Regions from separate parts of the Homo sapiens genome. Here regions 1 and 3 are each linked to region 2. The links come from fine-mapping of genetic effects on gene expression. A gene starts in region 2. Each other region holds a variant in brackets. All regions are shown on one strand. Distances are from middle to middle. Region 1 overlaps ZNF717 (zinc finger protein 717). Region 2 holds the start of ZNF717 (zinc finger protein 717). Region 3 has its middle 30 kb from the start of MIR4273.

Region 1 (10,124 bases), 22 kb before region 2:
TAGTGGAAATAACAAGAGCACTAGAATCAGAGACAGAGCCTGAAGATATGGTGAGACTGCAGCAGCCTCGGGAGAAAACGTGAGTGGATGAGTTGCTTCCACAGATGAGCAAAGAAAGTAGTTTCTTGAGATGAAATCTACTCGTGGTGAAGACAGTGTAAACACTGTTGAGATGACAACAGATTTAGAATAAACTCAGTTGGTACAGCAGAAGGAGGGCTTGACAGGATTGAACCCAATGATTTACAATAATACATAAACTTAGTTGGTACAGCAGTACGAAGGCCTGACAGGATTGAATCCAATTTTGAAAGTTCTACTGTGGGTAAAAAGCTCTCAAACAACATCGTATGCTACAGATCATTCTTTTGTGAAAGGGAGAGTCAATTGACACAGCAAACTTCAATGTTGTATTATTTTAAGAAATTGCCACAGCTACCCCAACCCTCAGCAATCACCACCTTACATTAAGGCAAGACCCTCCATCAGCAAGAAGACTGCAACTTGGCCAGGTGCAGTGGTTCACCCCTGTCATCCCAACACTTTGGGAGGCCAAGGTGGGGGGATTGCTTGAGCCCAGGACGTCGAGGCAACATGGCAAAACACCATCTCTACAAAAAAAAAAAAATTAGCTGCACATGGTGGCACGCACCTGTAGTCCCAGCTAGTCAGGAGTCTGAGGTGGGGGTTTGATTGAGCAGGAGGTTGAGGCTGCAATTACTCCAGCCTGAGCCACAGAGTGAAATCCTATCACACACACAAAAAAAGATTGCAGCTTGCTGAAGGCTCAGATGACTGTTAGCACTTGTTAACAATAAAGTATTTGTAAACTAAGGTGTGTACACTTTGTAGACATATGCTGTTGCACACTTTATACAGCACAGTATAAACATACTTTTACATGCACTGGGAAACCAAAAGAAATTGTATAACTCACTTTATTGCAGTGGTCTGGAACCAAACCCACATATATCTCTGATGCATGGCCGTCCTGTATTGTACACTTAAAAAAAAAACTTAAGAGGGTATATTTTAGGTGAAATGGTCATCTAATTTTTTTTTTTTTTTGAGACGGAGTCTTGCTCTGTTGCCCAGGCCATAGTGCAGTGGCGTGATCTCGGCTCACTGCAAGCTCCACCTCCCGGGTTCACACCATTCTCCTGCCTCAACCTCCGGAGTAGCTGGAAGTACAGGCACCCGCCACAACGCCCCGCTAATTTTTTCTATTTTTAGTAGATACGGCATTTCACTGTGTTAGCCCGGATGGTCTCGATCTCCTGACATGATCTGCCTGCCTCAGCCTCCCAAAGTGCTGCGATTACAGGTGTGAGCCACCGCGCCCAGGCAATTTTTATTTTTTTGAGACAGAGTCTCACTCTGTCACCCAGGGAGGAGCGCAGTGGCACTATCTTGGCTCACTGCAACCTCTGCCTCCCAGGTTCAAGCAATTCTCCCGCCTCAGGCTCCTGAGTAGCTGGGACTACAGATGCATACTATCACACCTGGCTAATTTTTTGATTTTTAATAGAGATGGGATTTCACCATGTTGGCCAGGCTGGTCTCAAACTCCTGACCTCATGTGATCTGCCCACCTCAGCCTCCCAAAGTGCTGGGATTACAGGTGTAAGCCACTGTACCCGGCAATTTTTAAATATATATAATTAAAAATTAATGAAAAACAGGTATTTGCAGGTTTCCGTTTTGGTATAGGTTTATTTATCTTTATGTCAGGTTGCTGTGTCAATACACTTAGGAGATCATAGTTTCTAAATTGAAATACATACAAATATGTCTGAAATTTTTTCTTTCTTCTTTTTTTTTGAGACGGAGTCTCACTCTGTCACCCAGGCTGGAGTGCAGTGGTGCAATCTCAGCTCACTGCAACCTCCGCCTCCCAGATTCAAGTGATTGTCCTGCCTCAGCCTCCACGGTAGCTGGGATTACAGGCATCCGCCACCACACCTAGCTAACTTTTATATATTTTTTTTTTCTATTTTTAGTAAAGACAGGGTGTCACCATGTTGGCCAGGCTGGTCTCCAACTCCTGACCTCAGATGATCCGCCCGCCTCGGCCTCCCAAAGTGCTGGGATTGCAGGTGTGAGCCACTGTGCCTGGCCTGGAATTTTTTTCTAAAGTTTACATTTCTGAGTTAAGAATGCTTAAAATATTATAAAAACAGAAGCACAATTCATTATGTGTTTCATTAATCACCTTTATTAAAAACAACGCAATTATATTACAATAGGACAAAAAAATGTTTAGGCAAATGAAAACAAAATCATGACATACCCAAACTCAGGAGGAGGCAACAAAGGCAGTGCTAAAGGGAAGCTTACAGCTGCAGATGCTTAAATTAAAAAGAAGAAAGATCTCAAACCCATGCTAAAGGGAAGCTTACAGCTGCAGATGCTTAAATTGAAAAGAAGCGAGATCTCAAACCCATGCTAAAGGGAAGCTTATAGCTGCAGGTGCTTAAATTAAAAAGAAGAAAGATCTCAAATCAATAACCTAACATTACACCTGAAGGGAAAAAAAAACTAATGACAAACCAAGCAAAAGGAAGAAAATAACAGATTAGAGCAGAGATAAGCAGAATAAGACCAGAAAAAAGAAAGGAAAAAAAAACACTGAGTTTGTTTTTTTAAAGATCAATAAAAATTTTAAAACTCACAGCCATATTAAGAAAAAAAGAGAAATCTCAAATACTAAAATCATATATAAAAGAGGTGACAGTACAACAGATGCCACAGAAATGAAAAAGATTACAAGAGACTAATGTGAGCAAACCATATGCCACAAAACTGGGCAACTTAGAATAAATTTATAAATTCCTAGAAACACAAACCACCATACTGCATCATGGAGAAATAAAAAATCCAAAGAGACCTGTAACTAGTAAGAAGATTCAACCAGTAATCAAAAACCCCCCAAAAAAGAAAATTCCAGGTCCAGATAACTTCACTGGAGAATTTTACCAAACATTTCAAGAAGAATTAATGCCAATGCTCTGCAAAATATTCAAAAAATGTTCAAAAACCAGGAGGGGACATTCCAATCCATTCTATCAGGTCAACATTTATCTGGTTCCACAGCGGGATGAACACCTTTCATAATAAAAACACTCAAAGAATTAGTAATAGATGGAAACTCCTCAGTAAATAAAGATCGTACATGAAAAGCTCACAGCTAACATCATACTCAATGGTGAAAAACTAAGAACTTTTCCTCTAGGATCAGGAACAAGATAGCAACATCTCCTCCTGCCACTTCTATTCACCACAGTACTGGAATTTCTACTCAGAATAATTAGGCAAGAGAAAGAAATAAAAAGCATGCAAATTGGAAAGGGAGAAGTATAAAATTTTGTTCACAGACAACAGGATGTAATGTGTAAAAATCCTGAAATTCCACAAAATACTGGTAGAATAATGAAATTCAACAAAGTTTCAGGATACAGTAACACACACAAGTCAGTTGCATTTCTGTAAACTAACAATGAACAATCTGCAAATAAAATTTTAAAAACAGAGGCCAGGTGCAGTGGCTCACGCTTATAATCCCAGCACTTCGGGAGGCCAAGGCGGGTGGACCAACTGAGGTCAGGAGTTCGTGACCAGCTGGGCCAACCCCATCTCTAATATAAATAGTAAAACTCTGTCTCTATTAAAAATACAAAAATTAGCTGGGCATAGTGGCAGACACCTGTAGTCCCAGCTGCTTGGGAGGCTGAGGCAGGAGAATTGCTTGAACTTGGAAGGTGGAGGTTGCAGTCAGCTGAGATTGTGCCACTGCGCTCCAGCCTAGGAAACAGAGTGAGACGCCATCTCAAAAAAAAGAAAGAAAGGAAAGAAAGAGAGAGAAAGAAAAGAAAAAAAGAAAAGAAAGAAAAAGAAAACAAAAGAAAAGAAATTTTTAAAAAGAATGACATTTGGCCAGGTGTGGTGGCTCATGCCTGCAATCCCAGCACTATGGGAGGCCGAGGCAGGCAAATCACCTGAGGTCACAAGTTCAAGACTAGTCTGGTCAACATGGAGAAACCCTGTCTCTACTAAAAATACCAAAAAATTAGCTGGGCATGGTGGCGTGCACCTGTGATCCCAGCTACTTGAGAGGCTGAGGTTGGAGAATCGCTTGAATAAGGAAGGTGGAGGTTGCAGTGAGCTGAGACAGTGCCACTGCACTCCAGCCTGGGAGACAGAGCAAGACTCCATCTCAAAAAAAAAAAAAAAAAAAGAATTACATTTACAACAGCATTTTAAAAACTAGAAATTAGCTTAACCAAGAGGGCAAAAGATTTGAACACCAAAAACTACAAAACACTGTCGAAAGAAACTAAACACAAATCAATGAAAAGAAAAGCTGGGTTTGCAGATGAGATGATTTCATCTTGGAATGATGTCAACACTACTCGAAGTGACCTAGATTCAATACAATCCTTATAAGGATTCCAATGACATTTTTGATAAACAGAAAAACCCATCCTAAAACTCATATGGAATCTCCAGGGCCCATGAATAGGCAAATCAATCTTGAAACAGAACAAAATTAAAGGTCTCAAAACAATTACAAAACTGCAATAAGCCAAAAAAAAAATGTAGTCATGACATAAAGACACACGAGAAACTTATGGACCAACACAACAGATACCTCATAAACCAATCCTGGCATATATGGTCCAATGATCTTCCACAAGGATGCCAAGACCACTCAATGGTGAAGGACAGTTTCTTCAACAAATGGTGTTGGGAAAACTGTATATCCACATGCAAAACAATGAAGTTGGACTCTTACCTTACACCACGTTAAAATTAATTCAAAGTGAATTATAAACCTAAATGTGAAACTAGAATTATCAAACTCCTAGGCAAAACAAATTTGGAAAATGCTTTATGACAATGAATTTGTCAATAATTTTTAGGATATGACATTAAAAGCTCAGGCAGTAAAATCAAAAACATATCAAACCTAAAAGTTTCTATACCTCAAAGGTCACAACCAACAGGGTAAAAGGAAACTGTAGAGTAAAAGAAAATACCAGTT[G/C]AGCGTCCCTTATTTGAAATGCTTGGGATGTGTTTCAGATTTTGTAATATTTGCATTATTCTTACTGGTTGAGCATCTCAAATTCAAACACCTGAGTCTGAGATGCTCCAATAAGCATTTCCTTTGAGTGTCATGTTGGCATTCAAAAAGTTTCAGACTTTGGAGCATTTGGGATTTCAGATTTTTGGATCAGAGACATTCAACCTATAGCTGCACATCATGTATCTCATAAGAAGTGAACATCCAGAATACGTAAAGAACTCCTACAGAGAGACTACCAGAAGCAGAGAGGAGCAAACACATTTTCACACTGGGGCACCTCCTATCTCTCCTGGATTCCAATTAGGGCAGAGTAAGTGCTAGTTCTCTGCCAACCCAGGATTAGGCCCTGCAGCTGCAGTGAAAATAATCACAGAAGAAAACTAAGAAATAAAAAATGGAGAAAGTGAGACATCAAACTAAAATTACTAGAAACACCTAGGAAGAAGGAAAAAGAAACCAAGAAAACAGAAAAACAATCAAACCAGTTAATTAAACCTTGGAGTGACCAGAAGATCAGAGTTTCCTAAAGGAGTGGAAATTTACTGATTTGAAGAGGATTTATTGATTACTGATTTGAAGAGGAAGAAAAACCATTAATGGTCTAAAGCAACAGCCTAGTGCCTGAAGAAGTCAGTAGGGTGAAAACAAGAGCTGACCAGAATGTCCACAGATGGTGACAAGTTTGCAAAATCTTTACTAGACTACTCGTGAGGCTAACTAGAGGCCAAGGAGCCAACCCTGCCCCTGTCATTACAGAGAGACCCTACACAGGATTCCCAGATATAGATGGAAGGACAACATCTTATCAGGTCCTCTCTGTGCAGATGTGGTTGTTATTCCAAATAATGAGCTCCAGCCCCAAGCCTGCTCCATCCTCAATTGCTTTTGAGTGGCCAATGTGGGCTCTCTGCACACGAGCTACATGTAGGTTCCTTGGGTACCCAGATGGGAGCCGTGAAACACAAATCCTCCATGGTCAGTTCCGTATCTGTTTCCTGCCTTTTTCCCAGCAGTTCCCAGGCCTCAGTAGCAGTGGTCTACCTCTGCTGATTCTCATTCGGAATCTAAACTTAGAGACAATTAGAACCTGGACCCCAATTCTACCTGAAAGTAACAGAATAACATAATCTATACCATGCAGCATGACTGTTTGCCCAACGTAATGAGGATGAACTGTGATATAATGAATGATCATGACCCTGGCCCAACGTAACGAGAATGAACTGTGAGATAAATGATCATGACCAAAAAACCCCGCTACAACCCAACAACAAAATAAAGTGATTAAAAAGTGGACAAAGAACATTTATCCAAAGATGCAAAGATGATATACAAATAGCCAACAGATACATGAGATATATGAGAAGATGTGTAACATCACTAATCATTAGAGAAATGCAAATAGAAACCACAATGGGACATCACTTCAAACCCAACAGAAAGTAACAAGTGCAGGTGAAACTGAAACCCTTGTACACTGTTGGTGGAAATATGAACTGGCTCCTCAAAAAAAAAATAAAATGACCATATGATCCAGCCATCCAACTTCTACAGAGAGACAGAATAACTAGTAGCAGGACCTCAAACAGATATGTGCACACCTATGTTCACAGCAGCATTACACAGCCACAAGGTGGAAGAAACCAAAACGTCCATCCAGGAATGGACGGATAAACAAAAGGATATATATATATATATATATATATATATATATATATATATGTATATGTGTGTGTGTGTGTGTGTGTGTATATGTACAAAGAAATGTTATTCAGCCATAGAAAGGAAGAAAATCCTGACACATCTGACACATAACATGAAACCTACTTAACAAAACAACAAATATTATATAACCCCAGGTATATAAGCCAAATTTTTAGAAACACAAAGTAGAATAGTACTTGCCAGGAGGTGGAAGGAGGGGGAAATTAATAGTTGTTGAATGGGTATAGAGCTTTCCAAGATAAAAAAAAAATCTAGAAATCTGCTACACAACACTGTAAATATTCTTAACTCTATAAAACTGTATACTTACAACTGGTTATGATGGTAAATTTTAAGGTATGTGTTTGTCACCAAAATTCGAAATAATAAATTATTTATAAAAAATGATCTTTTTTGATACAGGGTCTTACTCTGTTGCCCTGGCAGGAGTGCAATGGCATGATCACAGCTCACTGCAGCCTCGACCTCCCAGGCTCAAGCAACCCTCCCACCTCAGCCTCCCGAATAGTTGGGACTACAGGTGCACACCACGATGTCAGGCTAATTTTTGGTTTGGTTTTTTTGTAGACAGGGTTTTGCCATGTTGCAGGCTGGTCTCCACCTCCTGGGCTCAAGCAATCCACCTCCCCTGGCTTCCCACAGAGCTGAGATTACGAGCATGAGCCACCATGCCCAGCCTATAAAAAATTATTTGAAAAAGCCAAAAGATTAACCGAACTGGAATATTTACAAATATTTAATTAACCCAAAAGAAGTTAGGAAAGAATATATAGAAGATCAAAAGACAGACGAAGGCCAGGCATGGTGGCTCATGCCTGTAATCCCAACACTTTGGGAGGCCAAGGTGCGTAGATTGCTTGAGCTCAGGAGTTCAAGACCAGCCTGTGCAAAATGGCAAAACCCTATCTCTACAAAAAATATAAAAATTAGCCAGGTATGGTGCCATGCACCTGTAGTCCCAGCTACTCAGGGGGCTGAAGTGAGGACTGGTTGGGCCTGGGAGGCAGAGGTTGCAGTGAGCCAAGATTGCACCATTGCACTACAGTCTGGGTGACAGAGCAAGACCCTGTCTTAAAAAAAAATAAACAAACAAATAGAAAATAAGTAGAAAAATGGCAGACCTAAATCCAACCTTAGTAATGATTAGTTACAATGTAACTGGACAAATACTCTACTTAAGACAGAGACTGCCAGACCTGAGAGGAAAGCAAGACCCACAATATGGCATCCACAGAGACACAATTTAAACACAAAGACACAAACAAACTATGAGAAAAAATATGCTATGCAGACACTAATCATAAAAAGATGGTATCCAGACACTAATCATAAAAAGCTTCAATGGAGATGTTAACACTAGATGAAAGAGGCTTCAAAACAAAATATATCACCAGAAATAAACAGGGTACTTTCATAAAAGTAAAAGAATCAGAGAGGATGATATTAAAATTATAAATTGTGCCTCAAAGTGCACACAAAGTACACACACACACAAAACCTCAAAGTACGTGAATCAAAAACAACAGAACGAAAGCAGGAAGTTGACAATCCACAATTATAGCTGGTGAATTAATACTGCTCTCTCAGTAACTGACGGAACAACCAAATAAAAAAATAGGGAAAATACAGATCTAAATGACAAAATCCTGACCCAAATGGTATTTATGAAGCACACAGTTGAGCACTACCAAGACAGACTGTATGTCCATCTATTGAGAAAAGGTTCAAGCCTGAAATAGTATGCAAAGTATGTTGTCTCAACACTTGAAATTAAATTAGAAACCAACAACAAATAGATATCCAGAAAAGCCTCAAATGTCTGAAAACCAAGTAATAAACTTTGAAACACCCTGTGAGTCAAAAAAAGTATTCACAAGGGGAACTGGAATGTATTTGGAACAAACTTGTTATAAAAATCACATTTCTGGTAGACTAAAGGTGACAACTTCTTTCCTGCTCCTCTCTCTGTGAGAACCAATTCCCCTGAACCTTGCCCAGACTACTGACTTATTTGGCCAACAGAAGGTGACAAAGGTGGTATTTGGGGACTTCAGAAGCCAGGCTGAGAGAACGGAACACTTATCCAGGAGAAAGCCAGTCACCAGGCAGGAAATCCCACTTCCCTGAGACCCCCATGATGGAAACCATACGGCCAGTCCACGACTAGCTACACTCATTGACAGCCCCCACTGAGCCTCCAGCAACACCCACTCCCAACAACTAGTGAGCCACCCTGCACACCACACCGCTGTGCTTTCAAACAATCCAGCTCGGCTGCTGCCCTGCTGCAACTATGTGTGAGATGAGCTGGCCAACAAGACTCTCTAAGCCAAAAAACAAGTAATAATGAGTTGTTTTAAGCTGCCAAGTTTTGGGGATGGTTTCTTCAGAATAGATAACTGGAACAGAATATGGCAGCTGGAAATGAGCCGCTGTGGTAATCAGAAGCTACAACATGTGCCACAACTGTGAGGCTGAGCTGTAACTGGGCCTCAAGGAGACCATTCATGCAAGCTGGAAGGGCATCAAGACTCTTGGTGAGGGCCTGAAGGACAGTGAGAAAATGTCATTGGAAACTGGAGAAAAGGCCTGGGAGTTACGTGCTGAGGGACTGTGGGAAAACTACAGCCACAATACGGAAACTGAAAGGGCACTGCACCATCTCAGGGATCTGCCTAAGGAGACATCTGAGAAGAATGTGGAAAGTGCTACCAGCCTCCCCTAACTGTCACTGAATAAATATGACAGGAGAGGGACATGATCTAAAGAAGGAGGTTCAGTTTTCAGACAGAATTTAGAGAAAATATAAAGAAATAATTTATTGTCTCAAAAGGCCAAAGTAAAAAAAAAAAGGAAAGAAAACAAAAGGAAAAAAAATGAAAAAGAAGCCACTCTATTGACCATAAGAAAAAGGCAGAGAAAGTTGGTCAACGGCAACCCAGGCACTGAAGGAAAAAGAACATGGAGAATGACAAGAGCCCAGAGGGAGGAGTAAAAAGGCACAAACGCCATTCTCAGGGACCAGGACTGAGCGTCATTCTCAGGGACCAGGACTGGGCACTAATCAGAGACCTGCAACAGGTGCCCCATGGGAATGACCAACCGTTAGACAGGGCCTGCAGGGCAGCACCTACCTCCTGCCTTCCACCAACCCCATCTAAAGAGAAATGCTGACTGTTTTCACACCAGTCCCCTCACTGCGGCTGAGTGTGTGGGTGCAGATGACAGGCCACCACAACCTGATTCAGTCCTCACTGTGGCTGAGTGTGTCGGGGGGCAGATGACAGGCCACCACAACCTGATTCAGTCCTCACTG
Region 2 (10,124 bases):
AACCCAAAACAATGGGAGTGACTTGCTAAAACCAGAACCCAAAACAATGGGAGAGACGTGCTAAACCAGAACCCAAAGCAATGGGAGTGACGTGCTAAGCCAGAAACCCAAAACAATGGGAGTGACGTGCTAAGCCAGAAACCCAAAACAATGGGAGTGACGTGCTAAAACTGGAACCCAAAACAATGGAGCTGACGTGCTAAAACTGGAACCCAAAACAATGGGAGTGACGTGCTAAAACCGGAACCCAAAACAATGGGAGTGACGTGCTAAACCCAGAAACCCAAAAAATGGGAGTCACGTGCTAAAACTGGAACCCAAAACAATGGGAGTGATGTGCTAAACCGGAAACCTAAAACAATGGTAACTAACAGTAGTGCTAAGGCCCTACATTTTGGTCACACTCTCAACTAAGTGAGAACTTGACTAAAAAGGAGGAATTATTTTTTTTCTGAGATAGAGTCTTGCTCTGTCCCCCAGAGTGGAGTGCAGTGGCAAGATCTTGGCTCATTGCAAGTTCCGCCTCCCGGGTTCAGGCCATTCTGCCTCAGCCTCCCAAGTAGCTGGGACTACAGGTGCCCACCACCACGCTCGGCTAATTTTTGTATTTTTAGTAGAGACGGGGTTTCACCGTATTAGCCAGGATGGTCTCAATCTCCTGACCTTGTGATCCACCCACCTCGGCCTCCCAAAGTGCTGGGATTACAGGTGTGAGCCACCACGCCCAGCCAAAAGGAGGAATTTTTTAAGCAAAATTATGCGAGGCCATTGTTTTAAACTAAGCTCATGCAATAGGTCCCAACAGACCAAACCAAACCAAAATGGAGTTACTCATGCTAAATGTAACATAATCAAACTAAGACTTTAAGGAAACACATAAATCCTAGAACAAACCAGGTTTTGTTTTTCTCCTGTAAACAGGACGTTCCAGCATAAGAAGGTACCTTCTACTCAAGTCCTTGGTCCACCTTTTCAAAACTCACTGGTCTATTTCCCAGTGGGTTTCTAAAGCAAGTAAGTACATTTGCAATGGTAATAGTGACACCAGTGACTGAAGTTTTGGCCAATCTCTCAAAATTGAGAAAATAACCAAAGGGAAGGAATTGTTAAAGTGAACTAAGTATGGCCTGAGAAGGACTCCATAATTCTATATATGAGTCCTTGTGGATGAACTGCAACCTACCTTAATAGGTAGACAAGAATGAAAACCTAACTTGAGAGTATGCACCTGGAACAACAGCTGCGTCTTGGCCAATCCCAGTGGCCAAACTTCAACCACTCAGGCACTGCCAAGTGTTCAAACTGTGTTCAAACAAGGCAAATGCTGAGTTGTTTCTGTACCTCACTTCTGATTTCGGTATGCCACTTCCCTTTTGTCTATAAATCTTCTTCCACCAAATGACTGTGCTGGAGTCTCTGTGAATCTGCTGTGTTTCTGGGGACTCTCCGATTCATGAATCGTTTATTGCTCAACTAAACTCCTTTAAAGTTTTTCTTTTAACAGAACTAACACAGAAGAATTTCCAGATCATGAACAGACATTTTGTAATACCCAAAGTTGTGTTAACATGAATAGACTCGTCCTTAGATACCTAACCTTGTTTTTAATATGAATAGACTCTCCCTTAGCTGAGAAAACCGGACAAACTCCATTTGGCTCCTTCATTTATAAGACATCAAGGGCTCCTTACCCACTCCCTTTCCTCAAGGACTTTAACTTGTGCAAGCTGACTTTCAACATATCAAAGACTGCAATTAACTGATAAAGCGCTGAGGCAAGTGATGTCTGCAGTTCCCAGCAATTTACTCAGAGATAGTATCATAAAGCCCGCACATTTGTCCGGCAGCTAACGCCCAGAGCCCCCTCACCTATCACTTTGTGGTGAATTTAAAGCCCCTGCACCTGGAACAGTTTGTTTTCCTGTAACCATCTGTCGTTTTAACTTTTTTGTCTGTTTTTTCTTCTGTAAGGTTGCTGCAGCTAGAATCCCCCCTCCCCTCTCTAAACCAAAGTATAAAAGAAAAGCTAGCCCCTTATCCGGGGCCGAGAGAATTTCGTGCGTTAGCCATCTCTCAGTCGCTGGCTAATAAAGGACTCCTGAACTCGTCTCAAAGTGTGGCGTTTCTCTCTAACTCGCTCGGATACGACAGTTTCAACTATGGTAGAAGACTCGAGTAAGGCAATCACAGTCCCCCTAAATTTGACTATTATTTAGGTTAATGGTGAGTTTAGAAGAAATAAGTTAGGACTACACAGAGTGGGCTAAAGTGCAAATAAACACTGGAAGTATTTCCCAGAAAATATAACTTTGAACAGGCTGCTGCACACCCTGCATGTAGAGATAAACTAAGATAAAGGTGTGGAGAGTTATTTAAGGACCTGTGGTTAACTCAGTTCTCAAGATGTTCCAGGTTTCATCCATGAATCAAGGAGCACCTCCCAAAAGCTGTTTGGGACCACACTCTTTGAGCAAGGAGCATACCTTACAATGGAAGCTGTGCTTTGGCAGCAGATGCCCATTTCCACTGCACAACAGGCCGTGCTTTAGTGGAAGATGACTGTTTCCACTGCACAACACTACAAGTGTTTACTGCCAGGCTGGTGTGAAATATGTTCCACCACAGCAAGGAGCATACCTTATGATGGAAGCTGTGCTTTAGCGGCAGATGACCATTTCCACTGCACAACACACTGTGCTTTAGCGGCAGATGACCATTTCCACTACACAACACACTATGCTTTAGCAGCAGATGACCATTTCCACTGCACAACATGCCGTGCTTTAGCGGACGATGACCGTTTCCACTGCACAACACACCGTGCTTTAGCGGCAGATGACCATTTCCACTGCACAACACGCCGTGCTTTAGCGGATGACGACCGTTTCCACTGCACAACATGCCGTGCTTTAGCAGAAGATGACCGTTTCCACTGCACAACACTACAAGTATTTACTGCCAGGCTGGTGTGAAATATGTTCCAGCACATAACCTATGTCACCACCGAAGGTGGTGGTTCAGACTTGGTGCACACAAGCTTTCCTGTCCCACAAGAACACAGCATGCTCTCTTCGCGGGTTCCATTCCAATCACGTAACAACCATGACTGACTTTTTTGTCACTGCATCAGAAAGATCAGAGGAAAATTTGCACTCAACTTAGACAACTCTAAGCTCTTACAACCTGTCTATATCTACAGGTCAGCTTTATCTTATTTATGTATATTTCCTTCAACCTGAGTTTTACTTATTTCCACTTTTCTTTTTTAATTCACAGACACCCATAAACTCAGAAAATACAGTGTAAAACAAAGTGAAGAACAAATAAACAACTCACCAGAGATTTATTCTTTTCTTGTAGCTCTTGGAAACAGCCAGAGAACACTGGAAACATAGCTGAGAGAGAAGGCAAATGACGTGAATTAAGGAGAGAACTGGTGTGGTGTGGTCCCAGATTCTTCTGCCCAACACTCTAGACACATTACCTGGAAAAGCCCTCCTCCCTCCTGAAAAAGAAAAACTTCCCCATGGGAGAAGAGTCCTTCAAGCCTCATTAGGGGCAGCAAAGACTCAAGATAAGATACATCTACAAGTACATTAATTGGTAGACATTAGATGCACAATTTATTTTGAATAAAAATATGTATTACCTACTAATTTAGCAACAATATTACCTAAAGATACAATCTAATAATTTAATACAAAGAAACATTATAAGTTCACTAAAATAAATGTTATAGAAATATACTGGGCTGTATTAACTATTTTCCTATTAATATGTGGATTCCACAAATAACTTCATATGAGTGTTCCCATGACAGTACATCTTGCTTTTCTATACCTGAACATCATGGAAAGTGCATCTTGCAACCCAGCAATTTTGGCCTACAATTACTTTTTTTTAAATGTACATAATATGTATTTCCTGCAGTACACCATTCTACTCATGTTTCCCAATAACACCTTTCCCTGTATCCAAGCCCTCATATTATGCTCTGACAATAAATTGGGCTTTTCCATCTGACTTGTCCAGTGAATGGACAATGGAAAATGTGATGCAAATATCCATTGGTTCTTGCCTTTTTGGACACAGTCATATTGTGAGGAGGTCTGGAGCTACCCTGGTGGAGACACAGGGCCTAGCCAAGAGTCACCACAAACCGCCAGATTGTGAAGGAAACTATCTTAAACCAACCAGGCTCAGTCAACCCACCATGTGACCAAGGCCTCTTTTGTGATCCAGGCAACATAAATATATCAACTACCCAGCTGAACCCACCACACCAAAATGCAGATCCACAGAACTTCAAACAAATAAAATGGTGGTTGTTTTTTATAAGCCAGTAAGGTTTAATTAGTTCCTTAAACAGCAAGTATTAACTGTTACACCTAAGTGAACAGAATTCAATATGTTTTTAACAAAATTACGTAGGGGGAGAAAGTCTTAAATTACAAATCAAATACAATCGATAGAACTTCACAATCTAATGCTAAAGCTAAATTTGGTGATGGACTAGGTTTAATATATCTCAAACGCTGGAAACAACGAGGAAAGGTTGAAGGAATGGGACTGTGTTTGGAGAGTATTTTAATCTTCTCAGGTATGACAGGTCACTCCTGTACCCCAGACCACACTTTCAGGCCCCTTCAAATAAGGAATATTTCCTAGGTCCTTGCCTGTTCTTCTCAGCCGAATTCACCTCAACCTTCTGAAAGTTCGTCCAAACCTACCACTGTCACCTAGTCTTTGCAAATCTTGTGCATTCTAGGGAGTAGAATTAATATTTCCCGAGCGAGGAAAACTGGGATCTTCACCTGTGACCTTTTATCCTCCTCTGAAGCACCAGTGGGAGGTTAGACCAGAGGGCTGTTCTTTCAAGTGCGCTTCTTATTCATAGGGAACCCTCCCTTTCAAACCTTATAACACACGGTTAAGACTGAAGTACCCTTAAGGCTGAAGACCATCATCCAGTACCCCATCTCCCTCGCGGCATCAGTGAGTTCTTCCCTGGAAACTAGGTCTCGTATAAACTTCTGTAAACGCAACCCAGGAGGACTAGGCAGGTCACACAGTGAAGGAGGGAACCAGAAACTTCACTTGCTAAAGAGACACCGGGAAACCCAACTAATACAAACGCCCAGTTTAAGACTCGAGGCGCACGCGTTTCGCACTACTCCTCTGGGAATGGGGAACGTCTCCCGAGAACTGTGTGTTCGCACTGGGACAGATGGGCAAACTGAGCGTCATGCGGGTTGGTAACCGGCTCCCTCAGCGGCAGGACAGGAGCGCGGCCTGCAGACTCCGGGCCCAGGGCCACCGGCCTCGCCTACCCGCTCCTGCGCCTCTAGAACCCGCTTCACTGCCGGGACCCCACGCCTGTCCTCCCAGCCCCCGCCAGGGTCCGCGGCCTGCACCTGCACTTCAGGCCCTGCCCGCCCGCGATGCGCCCACGCGTCTGCTCCCACAACTGGGGAACACTGGTCCGGCCCCCCGGGATCCCCCGGGCCCACGGGTTCCTCTTCGCCCTCGCACCGACCCGCAGGGACATAGAACCAAGCCCCAGGCTGGCCCAGCTACAAGACCGCCTCTGGGTGCCGCACTTCCGGAGGAAAATGGCGGAGTGGGCGGGGCGGCGCATGCGCAGAGAGAAAAGCTGGTTCCCAAGGTCCTTGATGGTAACATCATTGGAAGGTGACACTACATTTCCCATGAGGCTCTGCGGTCCCCGGTTAGGAACCCAAGCCGGACATTCTGTTTTGCCCAGCAGTGAGTCCAGTTACCCAGAGACCCGGACTTAATGGATCAGGACTGGTCCCTACCCAGGTGACACAGATGTGGCATTCTGGTTCTTTATTAAATCCTGGTTTCACAGCCTGGCACATTGTGAAAATAATGGAGAAATTTCAATAGAGGCCAATTGGTCTATGCTATTAATGAGTAACTTTTTTTTTTTTTTTTTTTTTGAGACGGAGTCTCACTCTGTCACCCAGGCTGGAGAGCAATGGTGCGATCTCGGCTCACTGCAACCTCCGCTTCCCGGGTTCAAGCGATTCTCCTGCCTCAGCCTCCTGAGTAGCTGGGATTACAGGTGCGCGCCACCACACTCACCTAATTTTTGTATTTTTAGTAGAGACGGGGTTTCACCATGTTGGTCAGGCTGGTCTCGAACTCTTGACCTCGTGATCCGCCCTCCTCGGCCTCCCAAAGTGCTGGGATTACAGGCGTGAGCCACTGCGCCCAGCCCTCAAGTCTATTTTTTATAAATGCATTCGAAAGCATGAAAAAAATCATGTCTCTATTTTACTTTAAAATTTTAAAAACACAACTAATGAATATGGTAATTCTCTTCCAATCCGTTATCTTTTCTCTCACTAAACTAATTTATAAGCCTTCAATTTACACAGTTACAAAAAATGCTCTAGTGCATATACTGGGATAAAATAACAGGGTCATAAGACAGGTGCACTCCATAATCTTTGTGACAACTTACACTTCCAGTGTCTGATAAATATTTGCCCATAAACTCCCACGTTTCATCCATCCACCAATCAATCAAATCTAGCTATCTTTATTTATTTATTGTGAGAAAGACCTGAACTTTGCCTTTCCTTCCCTGATTTCTGCCACAAACTAGGCAAGGATTTCTGCCTAGGGGTTTCTCAGAGCTCCGGCCACCACCGAGGTTCCTAACAGGGAAACGCAAGCTTGAATGCTCAGGGTTGATGTGGGAGTGCGTGTGAAACGGGGTTGGGGTGAAAGGGCAGTGAAGTTTGTAGGTGGGCAGATGAGGGTGTGAAGGGCTTTCAGGTAAGAGGCACGCAGGAGACTGGGAGAGGCAGCGAAAGCACCTCACGCCTCAGATCACCAGAAGACGCTTCCACCAGTGCCGTGACAGTTTGCCAATGCCACGGCAGCACGGGAAGTCCCCACCCCTTGCCATGGAAACAGCTGGAAGTTACTGCCCATTTCTAGCTATTTCTGAATAACCCGCCCCTTAATTAGCATGCCATTAAAAGTGAATTATAAAAATGACTGCAAGCCACCCCCAGGCTGCTACTCTGGGAGCACAACCCACGGAGGGCTCCCTGCCCTGCAGGAGTGGACGCAGGGCTGTAACACCGCCAGTGCCTCCGTAGAGCTGCTTTCTTCCACCACAGGCTTGCTTTTGGATTCCTTCCTGAGCGACGCCAAGAACCTGCCCTTCCTCAGTGTGACTCTTGCCTAAAACCTATCCCTGGTTTTCTCTTTTCCTAAGCATGCCCTGACTTGTTCTTTCATCTCCTCGGATCTTGCAATTGCTCCTCAGTGACTCTATTCTGCAGATCCAGAAAACTCAACCTTAATCTTCCCAGAGCCCTGTTGTCTCCAATATCGGAATCTCTAGCCTTGCTTTCTCAGACGCCTAGATTACAGGCCTCTCTCTTGAACACCTATTGGTATGGTATCTGGGGATCCTTTAAATACACGATGATTGGCAGGGGTTACATAGCGGAAATCAGTGCCTGACAATTTGCCTTCCAGGATATGGACTGTCATTCCCTCTCTTGGTGGGCCTCAGTCTCTTATCCATAAAAGTAGAGATTGTAATACTCATTTGAATTGCAGATACCTCAACCTGAACCCACCTAATATAACGTAAAAGCCAAGACTGCAACCCCTTTCCTCACCACGTGAAGGTGAAGTCCTCAGAGCCAAGGAGAGAAGGCTCAGGGATGATACCTGGGTGTCTCCGACGCTAACCATGTATTGCAGTTTTTAGTGTTCAAGTTTAAGCTTCCCCAGCTTTAATTCTATTGTAACAAGATTTATTTTTGTAATTCCATTTTTGGATTCTTGATTTCTTGGTAAAGAAATACAGTTATTTTTGTATATCAATCTTATATAGTGTTACATTCTTAAATTTGTTCATGAGTCCTAATACTTTTTAGTAAATTTCTTACGATTTTCTAAATGCAAGATCATGTCATCTGTACATAAAGATAACTGTACTTCTTCCTTTCCAATCTAGATGCCGTTTATTTATTTACGTTGCCAAGTTGTCCCAGCTACCACTGTTATCAAGTAAAAGGGTCTCACTGCCCAAAGCACTAGAAGCCGGTACCACGACACTGAGTTTTCGAGAAAAGAAAAAGTTTAAAGTCAAACCAAAACCTATGGGGTACAGGCCGGGCGCAGTGGCTCATGCCTGTAATCCCAGCACTTTGGGAGGCTGAGGCGGGCGGATCGCGAGGTCAGGAGATCGAGACCATCCTGGCTAACAGAGTGAAACCCCGTCTCTACTAAAAATACAAAAAACAAAAATTAACCGTGCGTGATGGCGGGCGCCTTTGGTCCCAGCTACTCAGGAGGCTGAGGCGGGAGAATGGCGTGAACCCGGGAGGCGGAGCTTGCAGTGAGCCGAGATCGCGTCACTGCACTCCAGCCTGGGAAACAGAGCGATACTCCGTCTCAAAAAAAAAAAAAAAAAACCTATGGGATACAGTAAAAACACTACTACAGTACTAAGAGGTAAATTTATAGCAAAAAGCACCTGCATCAAAAAAAGTAGAAAAGCTTCAAATAAACAACCTAATAATGCATCTTAAATAATTGGAAAAGCAAGAGCAAACCAAAACCAAAATTAGTAGAAGGAAACATAGCAAAGATCAGAGCAGAAATAAATGAAATTGAAATTTAAAAATATAAAATATCAATGAAATGAAAAGTTAATATTTTTTAAAAGACCAACAAAATCAACAAACATTTAACCAGACTAAGAAAAAAGAGAGAAGACTCAAATACATAAAACCAGAGATTAAAAAGGAGATACTACAACTGATACTGCGGAAATTCAAAGAATCATTAGAAACTATTATGACTGACTATATTCCAATAAATTGAAAAACCTGGAAGAAATGGCCAGGCACCGTGGCTCATGCCTGTAATCCCACCACTTTGGGAGGCCAAGGAAGGTGATCACCTGAGGTCAGGAGTTCAAGACCAGCCTGGCCAACATGGTGAAACCCCATCTCTACTAAAAATACAAAAATTAGCCAGGCATGGTGTCATGCACCTGTACTCCCAGCTACTCCAGAGGCTGAGGCAGGAAAATCACTTGAACCTGGGAGGCAGAGGTTGCAGTGACCTGAGATTGTACCACGCTCCAGCCTGGGTGACAGAGCAAGACTCCATCTCAAAAAAAAGAAAACAAAAAAACAACCAAACAACAAACCTAGAAGAAATGGATAAATGAAATTGAAGCCATAATAAAACATCTCCTAGTAAAGAAAAGCCTGGATCCAATGGCTTCACTGGCTTCACTGATTAATTTTACCAAACATTGAAGGCAGAATTACTATCAATCCTACTTAAACTATTCCAAAAAACAGAGAAGGCTGTAGTATTTCCAAACTCATCCTATGAAAAAGACCATTCATCATGTCTAAGTGGGATTTATCCCGAGGATGCCAACATGGTTCAACATATGCAAATCAATCAATGTGACACATCATATCAACAGAATGAAGGACAAAAACCATATGATAATTTCAATTGATGCTGAAAAGCATTTAATAAAATCCAACATCCCTGTGATAAAAAGAAACCCTCAAAAAAAAACTAGATATAGAAGGAACATACCACAACACAATAAAAACCATATGCAACAGACCCACAGCCAGTATCATCCTGAACAGGGAAAAGCTGAAAGCCTTTCTTCTAAGATCTGGAACAAGACAAGAATGTCCACTTCCAACACACAGTACTGGAAGTCCTAGCTAGAGCAATTCAGACAAGAGAAAAACAATAAAAGGGATCCAAATTGGAAAGAAGTAAAATTATTACTGTTTTCTTGTTTGCAGATGATTTGATCTTATATTTGGAAAAACCTAAGGACTCCACCAAAAAACTATTAGAACTGATCAACAAATTCAGAGTCACAGGATACAAAATCAAACTACAAGAGTCGGTAGCATTTCTAAATGACAAAAATGAACAATCTAAAGAAGAAAATCAAGAATGTAATCCCATTTACAATAGCTACAAATAAAATAAAATATCTGGGAACAAACATAACAGAATAAGTGAAAGATCTCTACAATGAAAACTATAAAACACTGATGCAAAAAAATTAAAGAGGACACCAA
Region 3 (10,124 bases), 77 kb before region 2:
AGGCCAAGGTGGGCAGATCGCTTGTTTTCAGGGGTTTGAGACCACCCAGCCAATGGAGTGAGACCCAATCTCTACTAAAGATACAAAAATGAGCTGAGTGTCATGATGCATGCCTGTAATCGCAGCTACTTGGGAGGCTGAGGCAGGAGAATTGCTTGAATCTGGGAGATGGAGGTTTCAGTGAGCCAGGATGGTGCACTGCACTCCAGCCTGGGCAACAGAGCAAGACTCTGTCTCAAAATAATAATAATAATAAATAAATAAATAAAAATAAAAATCTCATTGTGTTTCAAACAAAATTTCTTTTGAATATCAACTGTATCAACTTCCATATTAACTATCATTTTGTTTATATCCAATCTTGAGAAATCTTTGAGGACTAATTTTACTGTTTTCTGCCATTTTGGTAAACATACCAAATTCCATCAAACAAAATGCACAAAGTTCCTAAGAAATACATTTTCTCCTTGAGGAGTAGACTTGCTGTGTTAGAGGGACTCATGGCTACCAACCTTCTAGTTTAACAAACATGACCAGAATACTCTATCTTAATATGAGTAGCTAGGTACTCACAAGGCATCTAGAAGGTTAATACTCATGGTCTGAAAATAGCCACATTTTTTAGCTGGCCACAAATTACAATTGCAGAATATCTGTGGCCATACAAGACATCTTCCACCAAGCCTGAAAAATGTATAAATGTCCTAGGAGTGTAGCATTTTTTGTAAGGATAATATTAATGAGCTAGCTTAGGACAGTGGGTTAATGGTCATTGTTAAAACCAATAGCCTTGACTTTAGTGAGTACATCTGCACCTTCCAAGTTTAATTATAACTCTTTCTCTTTATAGTTACTTATAAGTAGAGACACTAACAAAAGACAATGCACTCCTGCTCTTGTTTTCTGAGGATGTCCAACTCTGTAATGGAGTCATTTCTAATAAACTTGCTTCTTTCACTGTGCTCTCTGACTCACCTCAAATTTTTTCTGCATAAGATCTAAGAATCCTACTTTTTGGTCTGTATCAGGACCCTCTTTTCCAGCAACATCTTTCGGCAATATCATGAAGGGACGCCAAGACAAGACCCCCACTCCAAGGAAAACAATCCACACAGAATCAATCAGCTGGCAAGTGGGCCATCTTTTAGAGTCGTGAAGCCATTCAGGCGGGCAAGAACGATTATCCACTATTATTTAAGTGAGAGACCCTAGGGCATAATGTTAGGGTGAGAGACTCAGCCCCAAAAGTTAGAGGCCCAGGGGCATCATATTCAGATTAGAGGCCAAGCTCACAGGGTTAGAGGCCCTTGGGAATACTGAGAAGAATGGGTTTGGCTAAACAAGATGTTTGCCACTTTCTCTTTTTGGACTGTCCACCTTCCGCTCTCTGTCCCTCACCTGAGTGCTCTGCATCTTGTCACCTCTCTGCTCAGCGCCTCAGTTTTGTAGTAGCCTGGAGGCTGCCCCAGGAAAGAGGCCCCAAACAGTTTAGCTTTTACTTTCCTCAACTATCCTCTGACTTTTATCTGATTGCTTGTTTAATTTGCCACTGGTCCAAGTGACACTGAAAAAAGAGAGATGTCTTGGAACCTAGTATTTTTGTACCTTAATTATCAGAAAAGATCAGCAGTAACCTCTCCATCATTATGACTAGAAGTTGAAATGTGGTATTTAACAGCCCTACATGATAAGATCAGATATGCCTGTTTAGTGGCAGCATCTTTTATGACAACCCTCTGCAAACAATTAGCCTCAAGATGGAGAACATAATTTTTCTTAACAGTTTTCTCTCATTTCTTAACCATAAGGTCATCTTTGATGAGCTGGTATAGGGCAGCTGTACCCTACTTTCTAAACCCAGCATGTCACTTTTTTCCTGAAAGAGTTTTGTCAGTTTTGTCACAGCAGTGTGAAAATGGACTAATACATTACAATGTACAAGTTACAGCCTTCCCATTTCCCCGTTCGATCTGACTCCTATTTTGCAGCTTAATTTGTTTTACAGAAGAGAAACTAAGTGGGAGGAAATACATTATATACAGGCTTCTCTGATGCTTGGTCAGGATAAAAAATTAAAATGGGCTTCTATATGTTTGATGGAGGAAAAGACAAAATAGGGATGGCACATAATTGATTACCCTTTTAATGCAAGTGCCTCTTAATATCAGGCTTTTCTTGGCTGGGGCTGAACTCCCCCTGCCAGTTCAAGCACCCCATAAGAACCCAGTCAGACTCCTTCCAGTTCTGGTGAGGTGTGCAACGCGTTATTAATTTCTTCTAGTTTTCCAGGGTTATCTAGTGTTTGGTCATCCTCTTCTCCCTCCCCTTCAAGTCTTGTCTTACATATATACCCCACTCTCGAAACACCTGAGCTTCACTGGAACAACATGCAGTAGGGCCTCTTATCAGCTGGCAAAGTTGAATGTTTGCCCTCTCTGGGAAGTGACAGATGATAATAGGGACACTGTATAGGTATATGTACCCTTTTCTATGTCTGAATTAGCCATATGCAAGGAAAAACTAAAACAATTTTCAGAGGTTCTGGGAAAATTCATAGACAAATTTAAGAGGCTAACCTTGATGTATAATCTGACCAGGCAGGATTTGCATATATTTATGTTTACCTGCTGCATGGTAGAAAAGCAGTGCATTATGGGAGTGGCTAGAGTACATGCTAATAGGGTGGCAGCCTGCAACCAGGGACATGACACCTATCAAATAGGAGGCACACCAGTGCCTGACCAGGACCCAGAAGAGAACTAGAATCTAGAAAAGACAAATGAATTAGGAAGAAAATGGGATATAGAGAGAAAAAATTACAATCATTTGACTCCTTGAAGGAATAAAAAAAAAGTGTGATAAAGCTTTTTAATTTTTATAAAGTCTGGAAAATTACTCAGGGAAAAGATGAAAACCTAGCATTATTAAAACGGTGGATAATTTAGACTTTGAGGAAATACACTAACACTGACCCTGACCCCAAGAAGGGACAGGCATTGCTAGCAGTTTATTTTACAGCCCAGTCTGCTTCTGATATCTGCAGGAAGACACCAAAAGCAGCCTTAGGCTTCCAGACTCCCATGGATCAGATTTTAGACTTGGATTTTGCAGTTTTCCATCACAGGAATAGGGCAGAGATAACATAAAATAAAGCAAATCTCCCAAGAGGCCCAGCTTCTAGCTGCAGCCTTGTGCTCTCCACCACTTCAGAGGCAGCCCCTGGGCCCCAGGCCTCACAGAGGAGGTGAGAAGGTGAAAGTCCCACTCTGTGCCTCTGAGCCACTGTGCCTTGGATACAAATCAATGTGCCTTCTGTAAGAAGGTCAGCCACTGATGAAGGAAATGCACTGTGCTTCCAAGGGAGCCATCATCAGAGCCCAGCAGACTCAAAAGTGATAGGGTCTGATACTTCCTACCTCTGCTCCCATTGGACTATTAGCTATCGAGAGATGGAGGAGACTCAGGTGACTCTTGAAGTGGCAGATAGGAGTATTAACTTCATATTAGGTATGGGAGCAGATGACTCTGTCCTGATTCAATACAATGGGCTCCTGTCTTCTCATGATGGACAAGCCCCAAAACACTGCTTATCATATCTTCTAAGTTGTCCTCCAGGGCCTCTGGGCTTCTCACCTGCCTTTTTAGTACTGTCTGAATGCCTGACCTCTTACTGGGGAGAGGTTTATTGACTCAGAAGACCAAGTCATGGTCAACTTCACAGATCATAAAGCATAGAAAGTGTTACTTTTGTTCCTGACCCCTCAGGGGAAGTTAAGAATGAGCTGTCACATTTACTGCCTGAAGTGTTGTCTCAAGTAAATCTTGAGGTTTGGGCCACACAGGCTCTGGGAAACACACTAAACACCTTCCCCATTCAAATCCAACTTCAGCCTAGTGCTCCTCACCCTCAGAAAAGACAATACATATTAAGGCAAGAAGCATGAGGGGAAATTCAACCCCTTAGCACCAAATTCTTGCCATATGAGTTATTAAGGCCATAAGAGTCCCCTTACAATACTCCCATGTTACCAGATAAAAAGCCTAATGGCAAGTACAGATTTGTCAGAACCCTCAGAGCATTAAGAAATGCAGTTGTCTCCATACACCTCATTGTCCCCAATACTTACCGAGTCCCAGGGGATGCAAGCTAGTTTACATTCTTAAATCTGGGGTGGGGTGGAGCCAAGATGGCTGAATAGGATTGGCTCTGGTCTACAGCTCCCAGCATGAACGACGCAGAAGATGTGTGATTTCCGCATTTCCATTTGAGGTACCGGGTTCATCTCACTAGGGAGTGCCAGACAGTGGGTGCAGGACAGTGGGTGCAGTGCACGGTGCACAAGCCAAAGCAGAGTGAGGCATTGCCTCACTCAGGAAGCTCACGGGGTCAGGGAGTTCCCTTTCCTAGTCAAAGAAAGGGGTGACAGATGGCACCCGGAAAATCGGGTCACTCCCACCCTAATACTGCGCTTTTCCAATGGGCTTAAAAAATGGCACACCAGGAGATTATATCCCGCACATGGCTCAGAGGGTCCTACACCCACGGAGTCCCGCTGATTGCTAGCACAGCAGTCTGAGGTCAAACTGCAAGGCAGCAGCAAGGCTGGGGGAGGGGCGCCTGCCATTGCCCAGGCTTGATTAGGTAAACAAAGCAGCCGGGAAGCTCGAACTGGATGGAGCCCACCACAGCTCAAGGAGGCCTGCCTGCCTCTGTAGGCTCCACCTCTGGGGGCAGGGCACAGACAAACAAAAAGACAGCAGTAACCTCTGCAGACTCAAATGTACCTGTCTGACAGCTTTGAAGAGAGCAGTGGTTCTCCCAGCACGCAGCTGGAGATCTGAGAACGGGCAGACTGCCTCCTCAAGTGGGTCCCTGACCCCC[G/A]AGCAGCCTAACTGGGAGGCACCCCCCAGTAGGGGCAGACTGACACCTCACACGGCTGGGTACTCCTCTGAGACAAAACTTCCAGAGGAATGATCAGGCAGCAGCATTTGTGGTTCACCAAGATCCGCTGTTCTACAGCCACTGCTGTTCTGCAGCCACTGCTGCTGATACCCAGGCAAACAGGGTCTGGAGTGGACCTCTAGCAAACTCCAACAGACCTGCAGCTGAGAGTCCTGCCTGTTAGAAGGAAAACTAACAAACAGAAAGGACATCTACACCAAAAACCCATCTGTACGTCACCACCATCAAAGACCAAAAGTAGATAAAACCACAAAGATGGGGAAAAAACACAGCAGAAAAACTGGAAACTCTAAAAAGCAGAGTGCCTCTCCTCCTCCAAAGGAACGCATCTCCTCACCAGCAATGGAACAAAGCTGGACGGAGAATGACTTTGACGAGTTGAGAGAAGAAGGATCCAGACGATCAAACTACTCTGAGCTACAGGAGGAAATTCAAACCAATGGCAAAGAAGTTAAAAACTGTGAAAAAAAAATTAGACGAATGGATAACTAGAATAGCCAATACAGAGAAGAGCATTGCTGTAAAGAAATACCTGAGGCTGAGTTATTTATAAATGAAAGAGGTTTAATTGTCTCATGGTTCTACAGGCCTTGTAGGATGCATGGTTCTGGCATCTGCTTCTGGTGAGAGCCTCAGGAAACATTTATTCATGGCAGAATTTGACGTGGCAGCAGGCACATTACATGGTGAGAGCAGGGGCAACAGAGGGAGGGGAGAAGTGCCACATCTTTTCTTTTTTTTCTTTTTCTTTTCTTTTTTTTTTTTAGATGGATTCTCACTCTGTCACCAAGGCTGGAGTGCAGTGGTGTGATCTCGGCTCACTGCAACCTCTGCCTCCTGGGATCAAGCGATTCCTGTTTCAGCCTCCTGAGTAGCTGGAATTACAGGCTCATGCCACCAAACCCAGCTATTTTTTTGTATTTTTAGTAGAGATGTGGTTTCACCATGTTGGCCAGGCTGGTCTCAAACTCCTGATCTCTAGTATTCTGCCCAACTCAGCCTCCCCAAGTGCTGGGGTTATAGGTGTGAGCCACTGCACCCAGCCTCCACACACTTTTAAACAACCAGAACTCACATGAACTCTGGGTGAGAACTTATCACCAAGGGGATGGTGCTAAACCATTCATGAAGGACCTGCACCCATGATCCAGTCATGTCCCCAGGCCCCACCTCCAACACTGGGGATTACATTTCAACATGAGATTTGGAGAGGGCAAACACCCAAATCACATGAAACACAAAGGTTTTCAAAGGAAACAATGAGGAAGGTTACATAATTGTTTTGAAATAATTATCCTTGGCTACAAAAATCAATAACAATCGTGATGCCAGTCCATGGTTGGAAGGCAGTAGTTACTGGGCAGATGTCCTTACAGAATTTTTTTTTTGTATAACGTTGTCACGGACTTTGTGCAAGGTTGTAATTTTTGTAGAATCTTTTTCATCATCAGGCATACACGCATGAGAATGCTCTCTTCATGGCCTTCCCCAGCTCGAGCTGTCAGAGTTTTCTTATTACTAGTGACTCCATTTTGATTCAGACAACTTTCACGTTTCCCTTTTGTGCTCCAGATCTTTTTCCAAAAGCATCACTGATCAATCATCTTTAAGTTTGGTTTTGATGGCCCTTGGTGCTAGGATGGACCTATTTTGGTTTTTGTTCTCATCCCACATTGAGGCAGGGGGTAATTGGCACCTAAGAGTCAGTGTCAAAATCCTTTTAGGCATATTTGGAGCAACAAGGGAAATTTGAAGGGAGTAGTTTTCAGGCTAAGTCTACCTGGAGTTCATTATTAAGTTCGATTTTGTCTGTTCTGTAGTCTTTTGCTATCATCTTAAAGTGCTGTACTGGTATTATTCTGTTAGGAGTTGTACTTTTGAAAAAAAACTTAAGTAATGGATACACAGTTTAAAAAGGGAAATTATGAAGTAAATAGTAATAGGACAATTCTAGTTTGCATAATGGCTTTGAGCCATTAACCTAGGCTTACAGACAACTAATTGAATAAATCAAATGATCACAAGGAATCAGGTGAGATGGTGTAACCACATGGCCTGTCTTCTTCTTTTGTGTCTATAAATTTCTAATTTCATAGAGAAATTTATCCAGGTACAGCATATAGTATTGACAATAACACAGTCATTTTCTCATTTAACCAAAGGATACTTATGAGCAGAAGCTATTGATTGTGAATTTTCATTCACATCATTATTCTGCCAAGTGAAAAATGTAGCATTAAGGAGGAGGAGGGGTAAAAATCTCATCACGTGGAGTCTTGTTCTAATGACCTGGGAAAATCTGTTCTAATGACCTGGGAAAATCGGCATGAAAACATTAACTTCTCCTGCTTTGTAGTTTGAATGTCTTTGGTCATGACATCAGTTGGTTTGGTGCACTCTTTCTGTGATCCATACATCAGGCACAAGTTTATTCTTTAAAATTTATCTAGTTTCAGCTCATAGGGCTTTAGTAACAGAGCAGCTTTTGCCTTTAGTTGGAGAGTTGTTGCCAAATTAGGAGAAATACATTAGGAAAATTCAGGATCTAGTATAATCTACATGTAGATAACAAGAACTTGAAAAGAATGCACACATTTACAATCTACTAACAGAGGCATTATAGTTTTTCTTTAGAAACAGAACTTTCTCTCTACATTAATTTACAGAAAGTTCAGGTTTAAAAACCTCTTGAGGCCAAAGCAAGGGAGGTTTTAGATTTTACTTACAATCTTAAAGTTTTTGGGCCTGCCAGGAAGTGACAATTTTTACTCATTCACTGTCAGGCTGGAAGCACTGGAAGCCAGGCATTTTATGCACATTCTTAAATATGATATTTCAGTCAAAGCCTTAATAATATAACCAAGGTTTTCAATGGTATTCTGTTTATGAAGAGAAACAGATATTTATTGAGTAAAAATAGAAGAATACTCACAAATGGTTTCCAAATTTTGGAGGAATCAAGTAGGGAGACAAAATGAATGCTTCCATCTTTGTTCAAAAAATTATACTTTACTGAATTTTTGTAAACTATAGGTAGCTTACGAGATAAAGTTTTCTTAAATCTGGAAAACAAAATATTTCAGAACCAATAATGTTTCAAATAAAAGTCATAAAAACATCATCTTCGTGAACCACTTAATTTCATGTAATTGTTTTGTTTTGTTTAATCTTGATTAACAGTTTTATAAATCCATCAGCTTATTTATTTGAGCTCTGGAGATTTTTATTTAGTCTACTGATCTTAAATTATCAAAAATTTTGCCAGGCACAGTGGCTCACATCTGCAGTCCCAGCACTTTGTGAGGCTGAGGCAGGTAGATCACTTCAACTTGGGAGTTTGAGATCAGCCTGGGCAATATGGAGAAATCCCATCTCTATAAAAAAAATACAAAAATTATCCAGGAGGCTGAGATTAGAGGATTGGGAGGTTGAGGATGCTGTGAGCCAAGACTGTACCACTGTATACCAGCTTGGGCAACAGAGTGAGACCCTGTCTCAAAAAATTTATTGGAATTCTGTGTTCAAGAGTATTTGTTATTTTCTATGAAAAGCAGTTTTGGACTACAGCAGATTGCAAACACTTTTGGAGAAATTTTCAAAACAACTGTGAATGACAAAAACTTGGAATAGCCATGGTTTAAAATCTGATCAAAGGTCCTAATTGACAATGAAACTTGGTTATTTTTATTTCATGCAACCAGAATCATGACTGACTACATCACATCAGGACAATCAGACTTTTATTAATTTCAAGTTATGTTGGAGTAAAACACTGTTTTTCTAGATTTTTCAGGACATATATTTCACCATCAGGACATAACAGCAGAGTTGGAACCACAGAAAAAAAGTTACAAGAGTTGACAAAAGGTTGAAGGAAAGTTATCACCTCAGCCAAGCACAATGTTATGCCTTTTTAGGCAAGAAAAAAGGGGAGCTGAATCTCCATCCTCAAACTAGGCAAATTAAATAGATCTCAGAAAGATATTTGACAGAAATGGAAATTGTCTGTAGTTTAGAAGATGGCTGTTAAGGGAACAGATTTCAGAATTAAAACTCAAAACCTCTTGCAACTTTATGAAAACTAAATCAATACTTTAAGAAAACCTTGTTGTTCTAACATAGGGGACCACAGTTTTTCAGGTTTGTATTAGTGTATTTTTAATGCCAAAGCTTAATCCTTAGAAAGACTTTTCTAATTTTATTTAGAAAACTAATAAATTAATTTTCAGAAGAATTTAATTTTCTTCTGATTGTAACCAACTTGGTCACATGCAAAACATCTTGCATAAATTCCCTTTCACAAATGAGTTACTCAGACCATTGGTGACATTCTTGGGCTTTCCACTTTGTCCTGTACTTTCCCTCTTAAATAACTAGACATTTTAGTTTAGGATGAAAATTTACCACACAAGATTCTTTGTCATGTGAAATATTTCTTTTCTTTTCAACCTTCTCCTATCTCCATCTCCCTATCAATAACTTTCTTCACATCTCTCTCTTCTACTTACTGGTTCTTCTTTAACATTTCACTGTTTTTTTGCTGAATCAATATTTTGAAACAACCTTTAAATAACCTCCAAATTATATAAAATTATTACTTCTTTCTCAATAAAGAGCATATTTGTATGCATTTCTTATACATTTTTTCTTATTAAAAATTCATCCTACTTTTTAAGGCACACTTTTATATAGAATTATATATATTAGTTAGGCTAGGCATGGTGGCTCACACCTGTAATCCCAGCACTTTGGGAGGCTGAGGCAGGAGGATTGCTGGAGCCCAAGAGTTCGAGGTTGCAGTGAGCTATGACCATGCCACTGCATTCCAGCCTGGGTAACAGAGTGGGATCCTGTTCCCCCACCCCACAAAAAGAATTATCCATATTAATTAAAATTTTATTATTTTATTTTATTTGAGACAAGTCTCAATCTGCCACCCTTGCTGGAGTGCAGTGGCACAATCACAGTTCACTGCAGCCTCAACCTCCTGGGCTCAAGCAATCCTCCCACCTCAGCCTCCCCAGTAGCTGGGACTACAGGCATGTGTCACCATGCCTGGCTAACTTCTGTATTTTTTGTAGAGATGGGGTTTTACCATGTTGCCCAGAGTGGTCTCAAACTCCTGGGCTCAAGCGATCCACCCACATCGGCCTCACGAAGT

The links.
Region 1: its variant is fine-mapped to the expression of ZNF717 in whole blood (TOPMed, PIP above 0.99).
Region 3: its variant is fine-mapped to the expression of ZNF717 in whole blood (INTERVAL, PIP above 0.99).

The regions. Positions count from the first base shown.
Region 1 is chr3:75,758,226-75,768,349 of GRCh38, forward strand. The region is part of intron 2 of ZNF717 (zinc finger protein 717); the gene reads right to left. Among named protein-coding and RNA genes, the nearest start is that of ZNF717, 22 kb to the right of the region's middle. The variant G/C (reference allele first, on the strand shown) is at 5,042.
Region 2 is chr3:75,779,970-75,790,093 of GRCh38, forward strand. It overlaps ZNF717 (zinc finger protein 717), which reads right to left and starts at 5,580. Exons shown (of 5, transcript NM_001290208.3): 1 at 5,415-5,580; 2 at 3,337-3,395. The coding sequence starts at 3,393. RefSeq lists an enhancer at 5,693-5,842.
Region 3 is chr3:75,703,292-75,713,415 of GRCh38, forward strand. It overlaps a transcript of ZNF717 not described here and the pseudogene RN7SL92P. Among named protein-coding and RNA genes, the nearest start is that of MIR4273, 30 kb to the right of the region's middle. The variant G/A (reference allele first, on the strand shown) is at 4,883.